Linked DNA regions of Homo sapiens. The protein of the gene in region 1 purifies or fractionates together with the protein of each later gene. This does not show direct contact. Each region holds a gene or a part of one and is shown in the gene's direction. Other genes may lie near its edges. The genes, in order: AMACR, CYP24A1, CPT2, NDUFAF1, FASTKD1, COQ8B and NDUFA10.

Evidence for each region.
Region 2: the proteins of AMACR (region 1) and CYP24A1 purify together in Homo sapiens (affinity purification with mass spectrometry; one large-scale study listed by BioGRID and IntAct). This does not show direct contact.
Region 3: the proteins of AMACR (region 1) and CPT2 purify together in Homo sapiens (affinity purification with mass spectrometry; one large-scale study listed by BioGRID and IntAct). This does not show direct contact.
Region 4: the proteins of AMACR (region 1) and NDUFAF1 purify together in Homo sapiens (affinity purification with mass spectrometry; one large-scale study listed by BioGRID and IntAct). This does not show direct contact.
Region 5: the proteins of AMACR (region 1) and FASTKD1 purify together in Homo sapiens (affinity purification with mass spectrometry; one large-scale study listed by BioGRID and IntAct). This does not show direct contact.
Region 6: the proteins of AMACR (region 1) and COQ8B purify together in Homo sapiens (affinity purification with mass spectrometry; one large-scale study listed by BioGRID and IntAct). This does not show direct contact.
Region 7: the proteins of AMACR (region 1) and NDUFA10 purify together in Homo sapiens (affinity purification with mass spectrometry; one large-scale study listed by BioGRID and IntAct). This does not show direct contact.

What each region holds. Positions count from the first base shown.
Region 1 is NC_000005.10:34,001,551-34,005,050, reverse strand, and holds part of AMACR (alpha-methylacyl-CoA racemase), read left to right. Parts: intron 1-316; coding exon 317-477; intron 478-3,500. UniProt on the Homo sapiens protein: Catalyzes the interconversion of (R)- and (S)-stereoisomers of alpha-methyl-branched-chain fatty acyl-CoA esters.
Region 2 is NC_000020.11:54,167,487-54,170,986, reverse strand, and holds part of CYP24A1 (1,25-dihydroxyvitamin D(3) 24-hydroxylase, mitochondrial isoform 1 precursor), read left to right. Parts: intron 1-1,298; coding exon 1,299-1,395; intron 1,396-3,500.
Region 3 is NC_000001.11:53,203,324-53,206,823, forward strand, and holds part of CPT2 (carnitine O-palmitoyltransferase 2, mitochondrial isoform 1 precursor), read left to right. Parts: intron 1-3,500. UniProt on the Homo sapiens protein: Involved in the intramitochondrial synthesis of acylcarnitines from accumulated acyl-CoA metabolites.
Region 4 is NC_000015.10:41,386,853-41,389,674, reverse strand, and holds the end of NDUFAF1 (complex I intermediate-associated protein 30, mitochondrial precursor), read left to right. Parts: intron 1-1,152; coding exon 1,153-1,227; intron 1,228-2,081; coding exon 2,082-2,231; 3' UTR 2,232-2,322; downstream 2,323-2,822. UniProt on the Homo sapiens protein: As part of the MCIA complex, involved in the assembly of the mitochondrial complex I.
Region 5 is NC_000002.12:169,546,366-169,549,865, reverse strand, and holds part of FASTKD1 (FAST kinase domain-containing protein 1, mitochondrial), read left to right. Parts: intron 1-3,161; coding exon 3,162-3,500. UniProt on the Homo sapiens protein: Involved in the down-regulation of mitochondrial MT-ND3 mRNA levels which leads to decreased respiratory complex I abundance and activity.
Region 6 is NC_000019.10:40,703,387-40,706,886, reverse strand, and holds part of COQ8B (atypical kinase COQ8B, mitochondrial), read left to right. Parts: intron 1-1,439; coding exon 1,440-1,562; intron 1,563-1,705; coding exon 1,706-1,791; intron 1,792-3,031; coding exon 3,032-3,172; intron 3,173-3,264; coding exon 3,265-3,346; intron 3,347-3,500.
Region 7 is NC_000002.12:239,962,843-239,966,342, reverse strand, and holds part of NDUFA10 (NADH dehydrogenase [ubiquinone] 1 alpha subcomplex subunit 10, mitochondrial isoform 1 precursor), read left to right. Parts: intron 1-3,500. UniProt on the Homo sapiens protein: Accessory subunit of the mitochondrial membrane respiratory chain NADH dehydrogenase (Complex I), that is believed not to be involved in catalysis. Complex I functions in the transfer of electrons from NADH to the respiratory chain.

The sequences.
Region 1 (3,500 bases):
GCATTTACTGTTTTAAAACCACAAAATAAATAATCATTTTCTTTTCCAAAAGTAAGTGAGTAAAAACTTAGCAATATTTGAAAATGTTGGTTGGAATAGGTTTTAGAGAGGAAAACAACAAAACAAGGATCCTGTCTTGAGGGAAAGCCTGTTTATGAGTTTACTGACTAAGCTCAGATTTGGAAAAGTGATGTATACTAGCTTTCACTTAGATTATCTGCTGGAGAGATTGATTATTCCTCTAAGATGCTCACATATTTATTTTAAGAAGAGATTAAATTTAAAAGAGACATTAAATTTGTTTTTAATGATGTAGGTGTTCTCTCAAAAATTGGCAGAAGTGGTGAGAATCCGTATGCCCCGCTGAATCTCCTGGCTGACTTTGCTGGTGGTGGCCTTATGTGTGCACTGGGCATTATAATGGCTCTTTTTGACCGCACACGCACTGGCAAGGGTCAGGTCATTGATGCAAATATGGTAAGTATTAATTGGGGTAGATGCCTGCCACTTGTCCCTAAGTTTAAGATATAGCTGCTTAAAATCCTTTTTTTGAAGAAGAAGACAAGAGATAAATGACATTTGAAGTTTCAAGCCAGGTTACCAAGGATATCCTTTTCTTTTTAAAATAGACTTATGTCTTTTATATATCTGTTAGAATGTCATATTTTGATCATCTGTCCTTGGAGTCAGTTCTCTGAACTTTCTGTGACTCATGTGATTCCTACGTTGTTTTAGGTTGGTGCAAAAGTAATTGCAGGTTTTGCCAAATATTTGCCAACCTAAATATTTCAACAATTTTCCCCAAGTATCTCTTGTGCTTAGTATATCATTTTCAAGCAGTCGTCATTCAAAAAAAGTTCAAGAAGTCTCCCTCAGCTGGTAGAGAAAATTCTTAGGAATGCTAAGGTCAAATGGACCTCCCTGTCTAAACCTTCCTGCTGCGTTTTATAGGGGATGCTCTGATATCATAACACTTCTGTTTGTTCACTGTCATCCACTGAGTGCTTGCCTCATGTTCTGCTGAGCACATTCCCTGTGTGATTTCTTCTTATTCTCAAAACTGCATTTGGAATACCTTGTTGTTTTAAAGAGGAGGGAACGGAAGCATTGCCATTTGCTCAAGATCTCACAGCTAGTGGGTAAGAGAGCCCACTCCAGCACCACCACTGCGTGTTTGCATTTTCACAGACATTTGGAGGTGGGATGGAGAATGGATCTGAGGAGACAAGACTGGAGGTACAGAGACCAATGACTGGGTTATTGCTGAAGAGATCAGGGCAAGTACTAAAGCAGTTAATGGTAGAGTTGGTTTGCATTGAAGGGACATTTGAGGTATAAAATTGCTGGGAATTGATAATGGACTGACAGGGAGCGAAGAGGGAGAAGTTGAGGCTGGCTCCCAGGTTTCTGGCTTAGATGACCTGCTAGTGTCTTGAGGGAAGACTGCTGAACACAGTGGTCAGAGCATAGAGTGGCAGCTGACTACCTCCGTCCCAGCTCTGCCATTTACTAGCTCTGTGATCTTGGGCAAGTTACTTAACCTCTCTGTGCTGTAGTTTCCTTTGTAAAATGGAGATAATAATGACATCCACCTCATAGCATTGTTAGTTGCTATGAGAATTCAATGAGTTCATCCATTGTTCAGTGTGGGAACAGTGCCTGGCGTACAGTGGGCCCTCTGTAAAAGTTTGTCATTGTGGTTATTTTTACTAGAAGAAAAGGAACTCAGTTTTGGTCTTTTCAGTTTTAAAGTGCCTTTCAGATATCCAGGTGGGATACTTGAGGTTAGGGACTAGAAACAGATTTCGGAGTTATTTGGGAGCCATATGAGACTATGTGATCCACTAGGAAAGGGGATAGAACACCGGCATTTAAGGAATGCGTGGGCAGAAAAGAGAAGCAAGGGCTGAGGACAGCTAAGGAGAGAAGCAGAATGGAGTGTTGTCATGGAAACCAAAGAAAGGAGTGGTCAGAGGGTCAAATGTTGGTGGATACCTCAAGAGTTTAGAGACTGAGAGTGTCAACTGGATTGGGTCCTGGCTGATCTTCACAAAATCCATTTTCTACCAGAAACCCCCTCATCTCCAAAGCTTCAGCCTGCGCTTCCTTCTCCTGTTCATGGTGAATCATGACCAGCCCTGTACTGAGTGTGTGCCTGTGGGACACTGTCATCAGGGCACATCTCACACTTTCCAGTGTGCCCTCTCTGAAGTGTGTACCAGCAGCAGGGGAGTGTGGTTTATCTTTTGTGGGCCAGCTCTTGGCGTACTCATGGCATAGTCGCTGCATGAGATAGCAGCACCGGATTTATACCAGTACCCGCCAAACTCAAGACCGGTACCTTCCACAGGGCTTCTGTGATCCACACAGTTCCCTGAGGGAGACGTGCTACTATCATTGGCATTGAAGACTTGAAGGCTTGGCGAGGTTAACTGCCTTCCTCTAAAGCAGATGACGGGAAAGGGTCCGAAGCACTGCCCCAGGCAGTTGGACCCTAAAGCCACTGCTTTCAACAACTTCCCCTGCTGCCCCAAGAGCATGGTCCCTGGGGTCCAAAAGGAATGAACTAAGAGCAAACATGGAGTCTTGGGAGTGTTAAGGAGAATTTGAGCCTAGATACTTCTCTAGTAATAATTTGAATAATTTACTGAAGAGATGCAATTGATTATCATCAAATATAAATAAAAGGTGATTGCTGCTTTCAGCAGAATGTAGCTAATCAGAATTATATAATGATTAGAAGATAGTAAGGTTGGCTGGGCATGGTGGCTCACGCCTGTAATCCCAGCACTTTGGGAGGCTGAGGTGGGTGGATCACCTGAGGTCAGGAGTTCGAGACCAGCCTGGCCAACATGGTGAAACCCCATCTCTACTAAAATACAAAAAAGTAGCTGGGCTTGGTGGTACGCGTCTGCAGTCCCAGCTCCCTGGGAGGCTGAGGCATGAGAATTGCTTGAACCCAGGAGGCAGAGGTTGCAGTGAGCCGAGACCACACTACTACACTTCAGCCTGGGTGACAGAGTGAGACCGTGTTTCAAAATAAATAAATTAAATAAAGAAGATAGTAAGGTTTTAGGGTATGTGAAAATGTTGTAATCTTTCTTCTGGGTTCATATTTCCATTAGGGGCTAGTAAGTGTTTGCTAATTACACAAGGCTAAAAGAATCAGTAAATCATAGTCATTACTTCATCACTAGGACCCCTTGTGACACAGGCAATTGCAGAAGCTGATTAGGGGAAGGCAGATACCTTCTAATGGGCCGAAAGTTTTCACAGTGTTTAGCAGCAGAATTCCAGACCTGGGCCTGCCTGTGAAGAGCTGGAGGCTGCCTTATTGTAGTGCTGTTTCCTTGGAAACTGTAGTTAAGATAACTCTGGAATATGGAGTGCGTTTTGCTGTATTTACACTCAATCTGAGCCCACATGATGAGCACAGCGTTGTTAAATTAACTGTAGCATAAAGCTGCCCCCTTACGTATTTTAAGTTCCACCTAAAGGTT
Region 2 (3,500 bases), on another chromosome or scaffold:
ATACTGGATAGGTCTTAACAATATTTTTGTATTATACTAAGGTATTTGGACATTATCCCTTAGCCAGCACGGAGTCAAAGGGAGTTTTAAGCATAAAGTAATCTCTTTTTACTTCTGTTCACTTTGGATGTTTATTTTGAACTGGATGCGTCCCCAGATGGGATCATATAGGTGAAGGATTGCAAACTCAGAAGCTTCCAGGGCTCACATGACTAATATAAAATAATAAGGCAGACCCAGTAAAAATTTCAGGAAACGTGATAGTGCATGCCCCTCCCAGGAGGGACAGCAGCCCCAGTTCCAGCAAACGAATGCCATGTCAGAATGCAGACCTCATGTCACCAAGTCTCATAATTATTATTTACATTTTTAAACTAGTAGTGGTAAATCCATATGTTCATATGAAACCTCTTGTTTTTTTTAATGGTAACAAATTCAAAGAACTTTTAAATGCGCTATGCGGGCAAATTAAACTTGCAAACTAAATCCACACATGTGGGCTGTATGGCCACACCAGCTCACGGCAGGGTCCAGGATGGCAACTTATCAGCTCTGTGTGCATAAGTGAGTGACTTGGCCTCTTTAAGCCTCAGCTTTCTCATCTACTACATGGGAAATGAGTAGAGACGGTACCTACTACTACTTGGTTGTCAGAGGATCAACCAATACACTTCGTACAGTGTTTGGTACCATATGGACCTCATTAAATGTGAGGCATTAGTTATTGAAAACTCTGGTTTATGAAACTGGCATCCAAAGGTCTTATGTGACTATCCCAAGGTCATAGACTACTTAGGGAAGGAGCTGTGTCCAGAATTGGTAGATCTTCTGGTTCCAAGTTCAACATGCTTAACATAACCACCAACCAATAAAGAGACGTTTGCTTGCCCAGATGTGGAAGGGCACACCTCAGGATAGCTGCTGCAACACAATCCTTGAGATGCTGGGCCAACAGGGACAGTTAGCTGATTCCTTTGTGGTTTTATTCCCCCATTCTGATTAGAAAAAAAAAATGTTTTCCTTTTCTTAAATTGCCAGAATTATTTTTAGATCAAAAGCTGAAACTTAAGCTTCAGGGTGGCTTCAGGAAAAGCTCAGGAAATAACCCAGGACGAGGTCATTAGGGGATAAGGTGGGTTCCCAGGGAGAATATATAATTAGTGTGACTTCAGGATGAATAACATTATGGCCAGTGAATATGCGATGTAGCAAGACCTGAAGTTAGCTCAGTGAGCTTTAAAGTTTTGTTTTCCTTCAACGGCTTTAAAATGTGTCTTTTGCGGTTGTTTTCTTTGAAGGTCTTGGCCGATTTTATGGGCAGAATAGATGAGCTCTGTGATGAAAGAGGCCACGTTGAAGACTTGTACAGCGAACTGAACAAATGGTCGTTTGAAAGTAAGTTGTCGTCACAGACTTGCTCACTGATTTTGCAGGTGATTTTGCGGATAAAACATGGCTCTTTTGACAACTCTTTTGTAAACAGGCATTATTGCTGCCTAGGGAAAGGCCAGAGCAGCCCTTTTAATGCTTCTTTTAGGTGCTTAAGTTATGCCTTGAACTATGGATTGTTAATGAGTCATACAACAAACATTTGTTGAATACTTGCTGTGTGTCTGGCACTGTGCTAGGTACTAGGGATATGACAATGAATGAAACGCATAACCCCTGTACCCTTGGGGAGCTTATATGCTAGACAAGGTGACAGTCAACAAGTAAACACATTTTAAAATATACTCTTCCAAGGAGTAAAGGAAAAGAGAAAGGGAGTTAAGAAAGAACATGAAAGGCAGGCATGGTGGCACATGCCTATAATCCCAGGACTTTGGGAGGCTGAGGTGGGCAGATCGCTTGAGGCCAGCCCAGGAATCTGAGAACAGCTTGGGCAACACAGCAAAACCTTGTCTCTACAAAAAATACAAAAATTAGTCAGGGTTGGTGGCACATGCCTGTAGTCCCATCTACTTGGGAGGCTGAGGTGGGAGGATTGCTTGACCCCGGGACGCTGAAGCTAAAGTGAGCCGTGATTGTACCACTGCATTGCAGTCTGGGTGACAGTGTGAGACCCCGTCTCAAGAAAGAGAGAGAGACAGAGAAAGGAAGGAAGGAAGGAAGGAAGGAAGGAAGGAAGGAAGGAAGGAAGAAGGGAGGGAGGGAGGGAAGGAAGGAAGGAGGGAGGGAGGGAGGGAGGGAAGGCAGAAGGGAGGGAGGGAAGGAAGGAAGGAGGGAGAGAAGGAAGGAAGGAAGGAGGGAAGGAAAAGAAAAAGAGAAAGGAAAGAAAAAAGAAAAGAAATAAAGAAGAAAAGAGAGAGAGAGAAAGAAATAACATGAAAGAATGAAAGAGGGGCAAGTCTTTTTTAGTAAGAAGACATTTGAGGTAAGTCCTAAAGGAAGGGAAGGAGCAAATCATGAGGGTACCTGTGGAGGATTGTTCCAGGCAGCAGAGAAGAAAGTGCAAATGCCAGGAGGTGGAAGCATGAGCGCCGAGTTTGAGGAACTTCAAGCTGCTGGTGTGAGTGGATCACGATGAACAAGCTGGGAGGAAGGGGAGCCTGTGAAAGGAGATGAGGTCAAAAAGAAGGCAGGTGTCCAACAGGGCACAGCTCATAGGTCCTGGCAAGACTTTACCTCTCATCTGACTCAGATGGGGCAAGTAAGGGAGGGAGGACATGACCGCTTTCTTCAAAGATTACTCTGGAAATAAAGGGCAGAGCTCACTGCCCATGGGGGTGCAAGAGGAGAGCAGGCAGCTGTGATCAGGTGGGACAGCGCCTGGCTGAGGACATTCAGGGCTGTGGGAGAATCTGAGAGGGCCACCTAAGCCGGACATGGCCAGGGGTCGCTTCACAGAGATGGTGCCCCTCAGCTAAGTCCTGATGGTTGAGTAGGAGTTCACCAGGTGAAAAGGGAGGAAGGAGAGTGTCCCTGCAGAAGAAGTGCGGAATGACAAGCATATCCTGTAACAGAGGCTGGCAGAGGGCCAGCAGCCAGCTCATGGAGGGCTGTATGAGCGGGAGTTTGAATTTTAGCCTGTAAGTAACCGGGAGCTGCGGGAATGTATTCAGCAGCAGTGTGATATATGGGCAGATTTACTGGGAGGATCACTGTGGCTGCTGATGGGAGGGATAGAAGGAAAACCTATAACACTTCCATAAATTCAAGGTCAGAAATATTGCCATAAATAGATAAATATAAGTAACTTTTTTTAATTACTTATTTGAGACAGACTCTCACTCTGCCCCAGGCTGGAGTGCAGCGGCGTGATCTCGGCTCACTGCAACCTCCACCTCCTGGGTTCAAGCGATTCTCCTGCCTCAGCATCCTGAGCAGCTGGGACTACAGGTGCACACCACCATGCCTGGCTGATTTTTGTGTTTTTTAGTACAGATGGGGTTTCACCATGTTGCCCAGGCTGGTCTCGAACTGCTGACCTCAGGTGATCCACTTACCTCAGCCTCCCAAAGTGCTGGTATTGCAGGCGTGCGATACCACGCCTGACTAAC
Region 3 (3,500 bases), on another chromosome or scaffold:
ATAGGGATTTGTAATTTTGGGTAACTCAGTATCTAGTTTTATGCTATTATGATCATAGAAACACTATTGTCAGCTGACTCATGTAGCATATTGGGATTGTTTTTCCTTTCCAGTACAAACTTTTTGTTTTCTCTGAAGTTAATAATTGTTCCATCTTTTCTCTTGTTTAGTTTTCTATGTGCTTACTAATTTACCCCCAGACTCTTCCCAAGCTGTCTGAATCTCCTCTCAATACATGAAAGCAGATTGGACATTCTATCCCTTTTGGTCTTCTTGACGAAACTTCTTCCAGAACTTGCGACATGCTGTAGTCTGGATTTGTGAACCTCTTGGCCTACTGTGAAGCTGCTCTCCTGTGCTCTTTCACCATCAGCTGGGGCATCTGTCATCTCTCTCTCATGTTGGGACTCGTGTTTCTTGTCTTTCATATTTTCTTATTTCTTGGCTTTTTCTTTTTCTTTTTTTTTTTTTTTAAATCAGAGCACATATTCCCTGTACTATCTGGAAACAGAATATGGGAAGCAAAAATTTTAAAATGGCCCTTATACTTCATTGATAATTTGTTTGGCTGGGTTTGAAATTATTTTCCCACAGAATTTTGGAGGCTTTGCTCCATTGTCTTTTAGCATCCAGTGTTGCTGTTGGTAAATCTAATGTTATTCTGAGACTTAATCTTTTGACTACTTCTTCTCTCTGCCTTTGGAAGCTTTTTAGAATTTTCTCTTTGTCCCCAGTGTTTTGAAATTTCAGGTAATGTGTTTTAGTATGTGTTGGGCCACTCTGTGAGTCCTTTGAATCTGGAATCTCATCCTTCAGGTCTGGGATATTTCCTTGTTTTATTTCTTTGGCTTTCTTCCTCTCCATTTTTTTTCTCTGTTTTTTCTTTGTGGAACTCTATTATTATTCAGGTGTAGAATTTCTGGGTCTCATCCTCTAATTTTCTTTTCTCTCACATTTTTCATCTCTTACTCTTTTTGTTACATTTTCTTGGGAGACTTACTTAATTTTAATCTCTCAACCTGTTTTTAAAACTCCTGCTTTCCTATTTTTTACTTCCACAAGCTCTTTTTTCTTCTTATGGTGTTCTTTTTAAAAATAGTTTATCTCTGATAATTTTTTTTTAAGATCTCTTCTCTCTTCATAGTCTGTTGCCTCCAAGTTGCTTTTCTTCTGTTTGCTTTGCCCTTTTCTTTCTTCAGATGCTTCATAATCCTGTGTTGTCTTCGATATGAGTGAGATATTAAAAAGCTCTTGGAAGCTATGTGGATGGGGGTGAGGCTTGTCAGTTACAGGCTTTGCTCTAATGTGATTGATATGGTTTGGCTCTATGTCCCCACCCAAATCTCATCTTGAATTGTAATCCCCACGTGTTGAAGGAGGGACCTGGAGGGAGGTGATTGGATCATGGGGGCAGTTTTCCCCATGCTGTTCTCATGATAGTTAGTGGTTTCTCACGAGCTCTGATAGTTAAAAAGTGTTCAGCAGTTCCCCCACTTGTTCGCTTTCTCTCCTGCTGCCACATAAGATGTGCCTTGCTTCCCCTTCACCTTGCGCTGTGATTGTAAGTTTCCTGAGGCCTCCCCAGCCACAAGGAACTGTCAGTCAATTAGACCTCTTTTCTTTATAAATTACCCAGTCTCAGGTGGTTCTTTATAGCAGTGTGAAAATGGACTAATATAGAAAACTGGTACCAGGAGGGGGGCATTGCTACAAAGATACCTGAAAATGTGGAAACAACTTTGGAACTGGTTAATAGGCAGAGGTTGGAACAGTTTGGAGGGGTCAGAAGAAGACAGGAAGATGTCAGACAGTTTGGAACTTCTTAGAGAGTTGAATGGTTTTGACCAAAATGCTGATAGAGATATGGACAATGAAGTCCAGGCTGAGGTGGTCTCAGATGGAGATGAGGAACTTATTGGGAACTGGAGCAAAGGTCACTCTACTGTGCTTTAGCAGAGAGACTGGTGGCATTTTGTCCCTGTCCTAGAGATCTGCAGAACTTTGAACTTGAGAGGGGTGATTTAGGGTGTCTGACAGAAGAAACTTCTAAGCAACAAAGCATTCAAGATGGCTTTTTCTGAAAGCATATGGTCATATGCATTCACAGAGAGATGATGTGAAAGTGGGACTTATGTTTAAAAGGGAAGCAGAGCATAAAAGTTTGGACAATTTGCAGCCTGACCATGCAGTAGAAAAGAAAAACCCATTTTCTGGGGAGAAATTCAAGCCACAAGCTGCAGAAATTTGCATAAGTAATGAGAAGCCAAATGTTAATAGCCAAGACAATGGGGAGAATGTCTTGAGGGCATTTCAGAGATCTTTACAGTAGCCCCTCCCAGCATAGGCCCAGAGGCCTAAGAGGGAAAAATGGTTTCCTGGGCCCTGCTGTTCTGTGCAGCCTCGGGACATGGTGCCCTGTGTCCCAGGCACTCCAGCTCCAGCCATGGCTAAAAGGGGCCAAGGCACAGCTCTGGCCATTGCTTCAGAGGGTGCAAGCCCCAAGCATTGGAGGCTTCCCCATGGTGTTGGGCATGCAGGTGTGCAGAAAACAAGAGTTGAGGTTTGAAAACCTCGTCCGGCCGGGTGCGGTGGCTCACGCCTGTAATCCCAGCACTTTGGGAGGCCAAGGCGGGTGGATCACAAGGTCAGGAGATCGAGACCATCCTGGCTAACATGGTGAAACCCTGTCTGTATTAAAAATACAAAAAAAATTAGCCGGGTGTGGTGGCGTGCACCTGTGTCCCAGCTGCTGGGGAGGCTGAGGCAGGAGAATAGCGTGAACCCAGGAGGCAGAGCTTGCAGTGAGCCAAGATAGCACCACTGCACTCCAGTCTGGGTGACAGAGCAAGACTCCATTTCAAAAAAAAAAAAAAAAAAAAAGAGACAACCTCCTCCTACATTTCAGAGGCTATATGGAAACACCTGGATGTCCAGGCAGAAGTCTGCTGCAGGGGTGAAGCCCTCATGGAGATCCTCTACTAGGGCAATGCAGATGGGAAATATGGGGTTAGAGCCCCCACACAGAGTTCCCAATGGGGAGCCTAGTGGAACTGTGAGAAGAGGGCCACTGCCCTTCAGACCCCAGAATGGTAGATCCACCGACAGTTTGCACCATGTGCCTGGAAAAGCCACAGGCATTCAATGCCAGCCTGTAAAAGCAACCATGGGGCTGTACTCTGCAGAGCCACAGGGGCAGGGCTACCAAAGGCCTTGGGAGCCCACTTCTTACATCAGCATGCCCTGGATGTGAGACATGGAGTCAAAGATTATTTTGGAGCTTTAAGATTTAATGGCTGCCCTGCTGGATTTCAGGCTTGCGTGGGGCCTGTAGCCCCTCTGTTTTGGCCAATTTCTCCCTTTTGGAATGGGAGCATTTACCCAATGCTTGTAACACCAGTGTATCTTGAAAATAACTAATTGGTTTTTGATTTTACAGACTCATAGGCAGAAGGAACTTGCCTTTACTCAGATGAGACTTTGGCTTGTAATTTTGAGTTAAT
Region 4 (2,822 bases), on another chromosome or scaffold:
TAGCCTCCTGAATAGCCAGGACTACAAGGATGCACCACCATGGCTGGATAAGTTTTTTGTTTTTTTACTAGAGTCTTGGTTTCACCGTGTTTCCCAGGCTGGTCTTGAACTCCTGGGCTCAGTTGATCCTATTGTGTTGGCCTCCCAAAGTGCTGGGATTACAGGCATGCACAACCAGGCCCAGCCATTTTCTTCCTTTGTTAAACTCAAAATATAAATAAAATTAGCATACTCTGTACCTGTTTTTTGTGTTTTTAAAATTTAGGAATATATCCTGGAGAGCTTCTGTATAATTATTTAGGCAGGGTGTGGTGGTTCATACCTGTAGGCCAAGGTTGGCAGATTACTTGAGCTCAGGAGTTTAAGACCAGCCTGGCTAACATGGTGAAACACCGTCTCTACCAAAAAAAAAAAAAAAAAAAAAATTAGCCGGGTGTGGTGGTGTGCGCCTATAGTCCCAGCTACTCAGGAAGCTGAGGTGGGAGAATCGCTTGAACCTGGGAGGTGGAAGTTGCAGTGAGCCAAGATGGCACCACTGCACTCCAGCCTGGGTAACAGAGTGAGACCCTATCTCAAAACAAAACACAAACAATTAAAGCCAGATATAGTTTTAAAAGATCGTGCTTAATAATAAGTAAATTACATAGAGAAGAAATATGAAAATAAAGTTGATGAATAAAAAGGCACACTTGAAAGTTCAAGAGTAGAAGGAATAGGACATTTCTTTTAGTTCAGTTTCTAATGTAGGAAGGAAGGGAAACGTTAAAATTCTTTTTTCTTTTTTTTCTGAGATAGAATCTAGCTCTATCGCCCAGGCTGAAGTGCAGTGGTGTGATCTTGGCTTACTGCAACCTCTACCTCCCGGGTTCAGGCAACAAAGTGAGACCCCATTCTCCACAGAAAGAAAAAAAAAAAAAAGCTGTGTTTAGGATACTAGTCTTTTTTCCATAAATGTTACAAATATTTTTTTCATAGTTAACCCTTTATCGTTTGGCCTGAGTTATATCTTTGATCCAAATGGCTAGCCATTTGTCATAATACATATATGACATAATTTTAGAATAAATGTAAACTCATTTTATCGTTACAATTACATGCAGATGCCTCAATTGCTTACATTTCAGTTATGAAGTAAATGGTTTCTTCTTTCAGATTCCTTTTTCCAAATTTTTCTTCTCTAATCGAGGAAGAATCCGGGATGTTCAGCATGAGCTTCCGCTTGATAAGGTAACATATTCCTGTATTTTTCACTCAGAACTGTATCATTTTTAATGAATCGGAACTCTGGGGAGACTGAGTTCATTTGAGAAGGCTGGCAGATGAATATTTCTTCTCAGGGCCACTGCTCTTATACCCAGCCAGAGGCTGACTTAGACCTCTCCTATGAACCATACCCCCATCCTGAAGGAATTTTAGAAGGATCATTTTTTAGCATGCCTACATTTTACTTTAGCTATTTTCCCCCCTCCCTTCTCTCCTAATTTAGCTTTAAAATAAGAGTTTATGAACGCTTCAAGGAACTCCATTAGGCATTCATGTCGTCCTTACTAGTCTTTTTGTTTTTTGACATGGAGTCTTGCTTTGTCACTCAGGCTGGAGTGCAGTGGCATGATCTCGGCTCACTGCAACCTCTACCTCCCGGGTTCAAGCATTTCTCCTGCCTCAGTCTCCTGAGTAGCTGGAATTACAGGTGCCTGCCACCACACTTGGCTAATCTTTGTATTCTTAGTAGAGACGAGGTTTTACCATATTGGGCAGGCTGGTTTTTAACTGGACCTTGTGATCTGCCCACCTTGGCCTCCCAGTGTTGGGATTACAGGCCTGAGCCACGACGCCCGGCCGTCCTTCCTAGTCTTAAGTGGCACTACCTAATGAGGAGAGGGGAGGAAGTTGAATGAGGAAAGAAAAGCAGTCTTGTATTTCCTCTTACAGTATGCTATGGGAGAATTAGTAGTATTTGCTAAGGGCTGATAGCATTAAAACCCAGTTATAATCATCACCTGATGGGATTTTAAACTCCTGGAATAATCTCAGTACGTCACTGTATGAGATTTTAATCAATTTCTGTATTTTAAATTTAGATCTCTTCTATAGGATTCACCTTGGCTGATAAAGTGGATGGTCCATTCTTCCTGGAGATAGATTTTATTGGCGTGTTTACTGATCCAGCTCATACAGAAGAATTTGCCTATGAAAATTCTCCAGAGCTTAACCCAAGGCTTTTTAAATAAAGATCATATGGTAGTTTTGTTTTACTAATCTAAGGGTACTAGCATCTACAATGATATAGACAAAATAAAATATTTCTTTAATGGCATCCAACCAATGGCTAGTATGTATTCTCTCTCTTTTTTTTTTTTTTTTTTGAGATGGAGTTCTGCTCTGTCGCCCAGGCTGGCATGCTGGCGTGCAGTAGCGTGATCTCGGCTCACCGTAACCTTCGCCTTCTGGGTTCAAGCTATTCTCCTGCCTCAGCTTCCCGAGTAGCTGGGATTATAGGCATGCACCATCATGCCCAGCTAATTTTGTATTTTTAGTAGAGACAGGGTTTCTCCATGTTGGTCAGGCTGGTCTCGAACTCCTGACCTCAGGTGATCCGCCCGCCTTGGCCTCCCAAAGTGCTGGGATTACAGATGTGAGCCACCGCGCCTGGCTGGCTAGTATGTATTCTCTAAGACAAGTTATAATGCTGTTGCTGGCCAGGCACTGTGGCTCACGCCTGTAATCCCAGCACTTTGGGAGGCTGAGACGGGCGGATCACTTAAGGTCTGGAGTTCGAGACCAGCCTGACCAGCATGGTGAAACCTCGTCTCTACTAAAAA
Region 5 (3,500 bases), on another chromosome or scaffold:
TACTAATAGTGAATGAGAATGCCTGTATCAGTACACCCTTGCTAACACTGAGTATTAATATTACGATTATTTTAGTATGCTAATTTAAATATTTTAAATGGCCAGGCATAGTGGCTCATGCTTGTAATCCCAGGACTTTGGGAGACTGAGCTGGGAGGATTGTTTGAGCCCAGGAGTTCAAGACCAGCCTGGGCAATAAAGCAAGACCCTGTCTCCACAACAAAAAACAAAAAATTAGCTGGGCGTGGTGGCATGTACCTATATCCCCAGTGTGTAGAGAGGCTGAGGCAGGAGGAGTACTTGAGCCCAGGAGGTCAAGGCTGCAATGAGCTATATTACGCCACTGCCCTCTAGCCTGGGCAACAGAGTGAGACCCTGTCTCCAGAAAAAAATTAATTTAAAAAATATTTTAAAAGTAACTCAATGTATTTATTTATTTATTTTTATTTTTAATTTTTTTTTGAGATGGAGTTTCGCTCTTGTTGCCCAGGCTGGAGTGCAGTGGCACAATCTCGGCTCACCGCAACCTCCGCCTCCCAGGTTCAACCGATTCTCCTGCCTCAGCCGCCCGAGTAGCTGGGATTACAGCGCATTACATGCGCCACCCCACCTGGCTAACTTTTTTGTATTTTTAGTAGAGACGGGGTTTTTCCATGTTGGTTAGGCTGGTCTCGAACTCCCGACCTCAGGTAATCCGCCCACCTCGGCCTCCCAAAGGGATGGGATTACAGGCGTGAGCCACCACGCCCAGCTATTTATTTAATTTTTTGAGATGGAGTCTCGCTCTGTCGCCCAGGCTGGAGTGCAGTGGTGCCATCTCGGCTCACTGCAAGCTCCGCCTCCCGGGTTCACGCCATTCTCCTGTCTCAGCCTCCTGAGTAGCTGGGACTACAGGCACCCACCACCATGCCCGGCTAACTCTTTTTTGTATTTTTAGTAGAGACGGTGTTTCACCATGTTAGCCAGAATGGTCTCGATCTCCTGACCTCGTGATCTGCCCGCCTTGGCCTCCCAAAGTGCTGGGATTACAGGAGTGAGCTACCGCGCCCAGCCTCAATTTTGTTTTAATTTAGATTGTATTATTCCTTCCACTACTTCTATACCTAAAGTTTTTTTTTTTTTTTTTTTTTTTTTGAGGCGGAGTCTTGCTCTGTCACCCAGGCTGGAGTGCAGTGGCGTGATCTCGGCTCACTGCAACCTCCGCCTCCCGGGTTCAAGCGATTCTCATGCCTTAGCCTCCCCAGTAGCTAGGATTACAGGCATGTGCCACCACGCCCGGCTAATTTTTTGTATTTTCAGTAGAGATGGGGTTTCATTATGTTGGCCAGGCTAGTCTCGAACTTCTGAGCTCAAGCTATCCCCCGCCTTGGCCTCTCAAAATGCTGGAATTAAAGGTGTGAGCCACCATGCCCGGCCCCAGTTTTTCAATTTTTTTTTTTTTTTTTAACAATTATTGTCCTGGTGGTGGGACTCTTGCCATGGGGATTTCGGAATGAAGTAGAGAATGAGGTCAACTATGTCCTGTTTCTTTTGTTGTTGTTTGTTTATTCATTTGTTTTAAATGTTGGACTGTGTATCGGAAACAAAAAAGGAACCAATTTTATTACGTGATCACTGCATGCCAGGGCCTGACAGGTGATATCAGAAATTGAACCCAAGTTCTTTCTTCAGCGACAGCACTGGAAACATTGTTCTGACATGGACCTTTTGTTTCCCTGGGACTGTGGTTTTATTTTTGAATAAAAAATTTTGGCCTGTGCTTCAGAACAGGTCTTCCTGTTTTATTCCTTTATTCCTTCCACTATTTCTATACTTAAAGATTTTTTTTTCTTTTCTTTTCTTTTTGTTTTTGTTTTGTTTTTTTTTTTTTGAGACGGAGGGCATCAGGAAGTCTTAGGCTTTCCTGAATAATCCTTTATGGACCTGTCATCTTTGAATTTATCAAACTCTTTTTTTTTTTTTTTTTTTTTTTTTTTTTTTTGAGATGGAGTCTTCCTCTGTCGCCCAGGCTGGAGTGCAGTGGCACGATCTTGGCTCACTGCAACCTCCACCTCCCTGGTTCAAGAGATTCCCCTGCCTCAACCTCCTGAGTAGCTGGGATTACAGGTGCACATCACCATGCCTGGCTAAGCTAATTTTTTTGTGTTTTTAGTAGAGACAGCGTTTCACCATGTTGGCCAGACTGGTCTCGAACCCCTGTCCTTGGCCTCCCAAAGTGCTGGGATTACAGACATGAGCCACCGTGCCTGGCCTATCTAACTCTTCTTAAATTAACTTGTATTATGCCCACCTGTGATGTTATATATATTGGCTTTTGTCCTAGTTACTAGTTCATAACTTCTATAGCTCTTGCTATAGCCTTTTGTTAACAATGTTGGGTATGTTAGGCCTCTGGAAAGAGAATCTCTCTCCTGCCCCAAAGCAGGACTCTAATCTCCCTCCACCTTTCTGATCGTGGGTCTTAAGACGCTCCCCTGAGAGATCCCACCCTACACCCTGTGTGAGGAAATGTTGATGTCACGAAGCTCATAAAAACCCAAGAAGACTGGGTTTGGACTGCTTCCGGATAGCCGAACACGTGGAGGTTCCTGGAGGGTGGCATGGTCAGGGAGGGCATGGAAGCTCTGCACCCCTTCCCGCATACCTCACCCTACTGTCCCTTCATCTGCATTCTTTATAATATCATTTATAATAAACCTGTAAACATAAACAACTGCTTCCCTGAGTTCTGTGAATCACTCCAGCAAATTAATCAAACCCAAAGAGGAGGTCATGGGAAACCCAACTTGAAGCCGGTTGCTCAGAAGTTCTGGAGGCCTACTTTTGCAAGTGGAGTCTGGGGTTTTTGTGGGAGAGGTTAGTCTTAGAGACCAAGTTCCCAACCTGTGGGATCTGACACTGTCCCCAGGTAGATTGTGTCAGAACTGAATTGGACACCCAGTTGGTATCCGCTGCTTGGAAGAACTCCCACACATTTGGTCACAGAAGTCTTCTGTGGTTGATGATTGTTGTGGTTTGAGATTAGAGGAGAAACATAGTTTGAAAGAGGTTTTTTTGAATCATCATCTTACCTATTAATTGTACTCATATGTATTCATATTTTAATACATATATATTTTGGGTTTGTTGCTGATGTATTCTTTTCATTTTTCATTTTGCAGTTATTTGAAAAATAGTTTCATACCAACTGAGGTGTCTGTTCTGGTCCGTGCTATTTCCCTGCTCCCTTCTCCTCACTTGGACGAAGTGGGGATATCCCGAATTGAAGCCGTTTTACCACAGTGTGACCTAAATAACCTGAGTAGTTTTGCCACATCTGTTTTAAGATGGATTCAGCATGATCACATGTATTTGGATAATATGACTGCGAAACAACTGAAACTACTTCAAAAATTAGATCACTATGGTCGTCAGAGACTACAACACAGCAACAGTTTGGATCTGTTACGGAAGGAACTTAAATCTCTCAAAGGAAACACGTTTCCTGAGTCACTTCTTGA
Region 6 (3,500 bases), on another chromosome or scaffold:
GTGAATTATAACAGTATGTGAATTATTTCTCAATAAAACTGTTAGAATGAGCCTCCAAAGAGCTTATTTATGTGGATTATAGTTATCAATGTCTACCATATTAGAAATTAAAACTGAGAAATTTTTAGGCCAGGTGCGGTGGCTTACGCCTGTAATCCCAACACTTTGGGAAGCTGGGGCGGGAGGATCCCTTGAGGTCAGGAATTTGAGACCAGTCTGAGTGACATAGCGAGGCCCCATTTTTACAGAAAGTAAAAATATTAGCCAAGCATGGTGGTGCATACCTGTAGTCCCAGCTACTCAGGAGGTTAAGGCAGGAGGATCACTTGGGCCCAGGAGGTTGCAGTGAGCCATGATTGTGCCGCTGCACTCCAGCCTGGGTGATAGAGTGAGACACTGTCTCAAAAACACAACAAAAATACAGAGATATTTTTAAAACACAAGAGTACACACGTACACATTCCATCAGCTGTCAGTCTGATGGTGTCCTCACATGTCCTGGAGCCTCTGGAGAACTCCAGTGAATGTTCTTAGACGCATGAGAGCAGAAAGGGGAAAATAACATCTTAATGTTACGATAAAAATAGTTTGATCTCTCAGACCCCTCTGAATGGTCTCAGGGACCCTCAGGGGTCCCTGGCCCACATTTCGAGAATCGTTGCCCTTCTCATGTCCCCACCTGGTCACTCCCCTCACCAAGGGTGACCTCTGTCTTGGCTCCTGGACCCTGGATTTGTTTGGCCTTGTTTTGCTCTTTATATCAGTGTAACTGGGTGATGATTTCATGCACCCGGCTGCTTTCACTCAGCATTACATTTTTGAGACCCACCTGGGCTGTTGTGTGTAGTGATAGCTCATCTATTCAATACTGTAGTAGTTACTCTTTGACTCTCCTGCAATTTGTTTTAACTTATGTTTATTTTTCTTTCTTTCTTTTCTTTTTTTTTTTTTTTTCCCGAGACAGGGTATTGCTTGGTTGCCCAGGCTGGAGTGCAATGGTGCGATCACAGTTCATTGCAGCCTCAACCTCCAGGGCTCAAGCAATCCTCCTGCCTCAGCCTCCTGAGTAGCTGGGACTACAGGCACATGCCACCATACACCCAGCTAATTAGAGACAGGGTCTTGCTTTGTTATCCAGGCTGGTCTGGAACTCCTTGACTCAAGCCATCCTCCTGCATTGACCTCCCAGTGTTGGGATTATAGGCGCGAGCCAACAAGCCTGGCCTCCGTATTTCGTTTTAGCCATTCCTGTTGGTGTGCAGATGATATATATTTTTTTTAATAGAGAAAGGATGTCACTGTTGCCCAGACTGGTCTCAGACTCCTGTGTTCATCCCGCCTGGGTCTCCCAAAGTGCTGGGATTACAGGCGTGGGCCGCCGGGCCTGGCCGCAGTGATGATATTTGTGGTTATAATTCTAATGGTTGTTCTCTCCCCAGAGGGTGGTTCTGGGCTGGACTCCAGCCCCTTCCTGTCGGAGGCCAATGCCGAGCGGATTGTGCAGACCTTATGTACAGTTCGAGGGGCCGCCCTCAAGGTTGGCCAGATGCTCAGCATCCAGGGTACAGCATGACCCTCGACTCCTGACCCCTGACCTCCCTTCTACCCCAGCCCTACCCACCAACAGGCCCCAACTTCAGATACTCACACGGGGTCCCTCCTCACCTCTTCGCTTACTTCCCCCCTGGTTCCACTGTCTCCCAAGACAACAGCTTCATCAGCCCTCAGCTGCAGCACATCTTTGAGCGGGTCCGCCAGAGCGCCGACTTCATGCCCCGCTGGCAGATGCTGGTGAGTGCCCAGTGGGGGAGGGCGGTGAGGGAGGCAGGCTCCATCTCCTCTGACCTGCCTGACCTTCCTGGCTTCACTGCCCCACTCCCTGCCTCTGAGCCTCACTTTCCCCATCTGTAAAATGGGAATCACCAGAGTACACACCTCCTAGCATTGCTGTGGTGATTAAAACAGGGAACAGCAGCCTGACCTCTCTGTGCTTCAGTTCCCTTCCCTGGGAAATGGCGATAGTGACAGCCACACCCACATCATAGGGTCACATAAATCAGTTTACACTGAGCACTGAGAACGGCCCCTGATTCACTGTGAGCAACATGCAGGTGTTAGCTGTGATTATTACTGTTTTTTTAATTAAAGGAGATCGTGTCTGTAATAGGTTGGCACGGCGCCTGGCACCAAGTAAGTGCCCAGGACATGAGCTGTTCTAATAACTGGGTAAGGCATGGAATCCAGGATTCCGCCACCCACCTGCTCTCCCATCCCTGTTCTGCTTATTCGCCATGCGGCCCCAGGCAGGTACTGCCTCTCTCTGGGCCACTCTGAATAGGACCTGGCCCACAGGAAGCCCATTGTAAATTTTAGCTCTTCTTGATCACAGTAACTGTGAGTTAATAATAACATATAAGAGCATAATAAAGGATGGTTGGCCACGTGTAATGGCTCATGCCTGTAATCCCAGCACTTTGGGAGGCTGCGGTGGGAGGATCATTTGAGCTCAGGACTTCCAGACCACCCTGGGCAACATAGTGAGACCTTGTCTCTACTAAACATAATAACAGTAATAATTAGCTGGGCACAGTGGCACATATCTGTAGTCCCAGCTATTCAGGAGGCAGGAGGATGGCTTGAGCTCGGGAGGTTGATGCTGCAGTGAGCCGTGAGAGTGCCACTACACTCCAGCCTGGGCTACAGAACAAGACCCTGTCTCAAAAAAAAAAAAAAAAAAAGGATTGTTATGAGTCTTAACTATAAATAATAGCAATCCCCACAACAGCCCAGGGAGTCCAGGTTCAGGGGACACAGGCTAGGCTGAGCCTCACAGTCTGCCAGTGCCTGGCTAGTCACTTGCACAAGGGAGCTCTCTCTGAGCCTCAGTTTCCTCATCTGCAAAGGGGGTGGCAGCCAAGAGCTTAGCCCAGGGCCCTGCATGTGGTGAGTGCTGGGGTTATCAACACGTAAAGCACTCAGCCTGGGGAATGAACTCTGCCACAATGATGATGGCTGTGACCACTCCCCGCAGAGAGTTCTTGAAGAGGAGCTCGGCAGGGACTGGCAGGCCAAGGTGGCCTCCTTGGAGGAGGTGCCCTTTGCCGCTGCCTCAATTGGGCAGGTGCACCAGGGCCTGCTGAGGGACGGGACGGAGGTGGCCGTGAAGATCCAGGTGAGAGGGGAGGCTGGGCAGGGTAGGGGCGGGCACCCTGCTAGCCCAGAGAAGTGACTCCCACCTTCTCTCCCTCCCTTCTCCCTTTACAGTACCCCGGCATAGCCCAGAGCATTCAGAGCGATGTCCAGAACCTGCTGGCGGTACTCAAGATGAGCGCGGCCCTGCCCGCGGGTGAGGCGCCCACCCACTCCTCTGCTGACCTCCCAAAGGGGCTATGCCCAGAGAGAGAAAGCAGGAGGGGGAGCCCAGAGGAGAGCACGGGCAGGGTGTGCTGGCGTTGTGAGCGGGAGTGTCAGAGACAGAAAGGACACCAAGGCGGGGAGAG
Region 7 (3,500 bases), on another chromosome or scaffold:
CCACCCTGCTCATCCTCCATGTCTGGGCTCCATCGGGGGCCAGGGGGAGTTGTCATTTCCAGCCCAGCCCCCTGTGACCAGCAGCCCTTAGGGAAAGGAACTTGGTTTGTACACTGAGTCAGCCCAGGTTGTCGGTGACTGGGCAGGGTGCCTCCCAGTGCACTGTCTAAAATCCCTTCCCAGCTCCAGGCCTCGCCCTGGAACACTCCCGGTGGGCCACCAGGGACTGACACACGCCAGGGTCATGGGTGGAGGGCAGCTTAGCTGCTTGGCTCTGGAAGAGGACTTGGAATGTTTGGCTTTGTAATTTATTGAGGTTTTTTTTCCCTTCAGTAAACTTCCTTTTTGATTTCTAATGGAAAATGGAATACAGGGAAAGAGCCTCCTGAAAGTGTTAAACTTATCAGAGCCCTGTGAATGTAATGAGTCCAAAATGCCTTGAATTTAGAGATCCAGCGAGGGAAACTCCGTTCGCATTGTACAGTAGAGGGGATTGCAGAGGATGAGCATTGGAGGGGTTTGTTCCTTTTTCTGTTAGGCGCTCTTTCTTCTTTTGCTCCTTAAGGATTCTTGGTTTGCTCACCCGGTGTATACTCGGCAGAAGCCCTGACTTCTGACAGGAGGAAAATGATTTTCTTTTCATTTTAAAGTGGGTGTACGGCCTTGATAGTTCACCTGAGATAGTTCACCGCATGCCCTTTGCATCTCAACCTTTGGACGCACAGCCACACACATGGGTGTCACGCACCCGGGCACCGTGAACGAGCAGATCCGGGAAAGCGTGGCTCGGGAGGAAGGTCTGACGAGGCCCGTTGCGGCTCCCGGAGTGAGGCTGCCCTGCGAGGGAACGGGCTTTGCTGCTTTCCTCCCTGAGGCGTTATCATGCGCGTTTTCTCATGTGATGAATGAGCACTGGGTTTTGGGGGTGGAAGGCTTATTTTAAATTAGCAGATACAGACGTGAAGTAGACATGTAAACAAAGTGGATGATTTTGCATTTTCCTGGTGTGAGATGCTGCAAATGAACCCCTCCCCCCCCGCATGGTTCTCTGTTGGCCTAAAACACTGAAAAGAGACCCCAGGATCTGAGAACCCTCCTGGGTATCAAAGGCCAGTTAACTGCTGCCTGAGAAGTCCAGACACAAACTTTCCGAGACAATTAATGGCCACTGGCTGGACTTAGCAGGTTTGGTATTCTGCTAGTTTCTATTATCTGCTCTGATTTAAAATTCTATTTGCAAAGATGAAAATGGAGCCAGACTGTCCCAAACCCAGCCCTTCCTCTGTCAGTACTGCTGTGAACAGACCTGCGTGGCTGGTCCTGTGTTTGGGTAAAACATTAAATGACAACTTTAATTGAAAAACCCTGGGGAAGCTGACCCAGGGCGTCTTAAGAGAGGCGCCTGCTGGCCGTCGTGTGGGTTTGCAGCAGGTTGGTTAAACGGGAAAACCTTTCGGTGATCTTTTGTTCAGGTGTCAACTTTCTGTTCTTTGGGCTTAATTCTGCAGTTGGTCCTTTAGGGAAAAAGAAATGAATTTCTGGCAGGACCACCTCTCAGATGTGGAACCAACTACAGCGTTACCGTTTCCTGGCTGCGGCAGTCGTGTTTGAGTGTGGTTCTGCTGGAGGTGTCCTCGCCGGCAGTGTTCCTGGAGGGCCTTGCTGCTTTCACAGCTCTCTGGCCTGCCCCTCCCTCCGGGTTTGTGTTCTTGGGGTTGACCCACACTCTCCTGCATCCTCGACCTGTTCCCCTGCACAGTTTTTTTCTTCCTGGTGTACAGATGTGACCCGGTATCTCCCATCATAAAAAGCAGACACCCGGCAGGAGTCGTCTGCTGCTGCTGCTGCCAGCTACCACTCTCTAGCAGCTTAAAACAATACACATGCATCCTCCTAAAGTTCTGGAGGCAGAGGTTCTAAAATCACGGTGCAGGCGGGGCTGGCTCCTTCCGGGGGCTCAAGGGGAGATTGGTGTCCTTTCCCTTTCCAGCTTCTAGAGGCCGCCCACATTCCTCAGCACCTGGCCCCACATTACTGTGGCTGTTGCTTCCATTGTCACATCTCCTTCTCTGATTTCTGAGGACCCTAGTGATGGCCTGGGGCCCACCCAGATAACCCAGATGATCTCCCAGTCTCCTGCTGCAGAGGCCCTTTTGCCAGGTGAGCTCATGTGTTCACAGGTTCTGGAGGCTGGGCATCTTGAGATAGAGATCTCCACCACTTCTTGATGCAGAGACCCCGCCTACCAGCCCCCTGCACATGCATGGGCGTGCAGGCATAGACATACGTGCCATTACCTGGCGTGTGAAAGGTGGCCCAGGTGTTGTGTCCCCTTCCTCAGCTGCTGACTGCTTCCCCGCTAGTGTGGTCTTTTCCCACCCCGCTCCTCCTGTCTTCGTGCAGAGCTAGTGGCCATCTGGTGACCGTGACGCGAGGCCCCGTATGTCACGCGTGGTCACACCCAGCTCCTCCGGTGGCCTGTGTGCCTCACTCCTCAGTCCCTCTGCAGCCTCAGGCCTCAGCCATGCAGTGCTGCTCTTTGGCCTCTTCTCTTGTCCAGCACCCTGGATGGTCGGCTCACATGGCGCTGCCTCCCTCAGTTACTGGGAGGTGGCTGCACAGCCCTGTCTTCTAAGCCACAGACGCAGGTTTCCAACTGCCCACGGGTCATCTCTATGGGGCAACCCGCCATGTAGCCCCCACACCCTGCACATATTCTATAAGCAGACCGGACACTTACCTTCCCTGGGGCTGACCAGCTCTTTCTCTCTCTCACCCAGGCCTTCCTGACCCCGTCAGGCCCTTTGAGGCCAGCCCCAGGTGCCCGTCACTGCTCCCCGGTCTAGAAATAGCACCTACAGCCCGTCTGACACAGGTCACAACTTAGGCCAAAGGTCTTGTCAGACTGTGAAGCCAGAAAGTCACGTCCCTCTCTTGCGGTCTTCCTGCCACTTGTAGACACCTGTAGTTCGAGCAGCAGTGTTGGGGGATCCCCCTGGCCCTGGAGGGTCCCTCACTCTCCTGACGCCTCCCTGGACTCTGCCAGACTAGCTGCCTGCGCCCCCTCCTGGGATCCCACAATACCAAACCCCCTGGGCTGTCTTGGCATCACTGGCTGAATGACCTGGGCTTTCATCTCAGTCTCTCTTCAGATTTCAAACTCCTGAAGGAGCTGGGTTTTTCTTTTTTTGTGTGTGTCCCAGAATTCTCCTGGCACCCAAACAAAACCGTCTGTATCCACACTGTATCCTGGGCCAGAAAGCTGGAGGCTGGCTGTGCCACCCTCCCCCCCGCCTTTAGATGGGCATTGATGTAGTTAGGATGTCTGTCCCTCCAGATCTCATGTAGAAATCTGATCCCCTGTTGGAGGTGGGGTCTGGTGGGTGGTGTTTAGGTCATGGGAGTAGATCCTTCATGAATGGCTTGGTGCCCTCCTGGAGGTAATTAGTATGTTCTCACAGAGTGCGCGTCGACCTCTCATTTTAAAGTATATGGCAGCT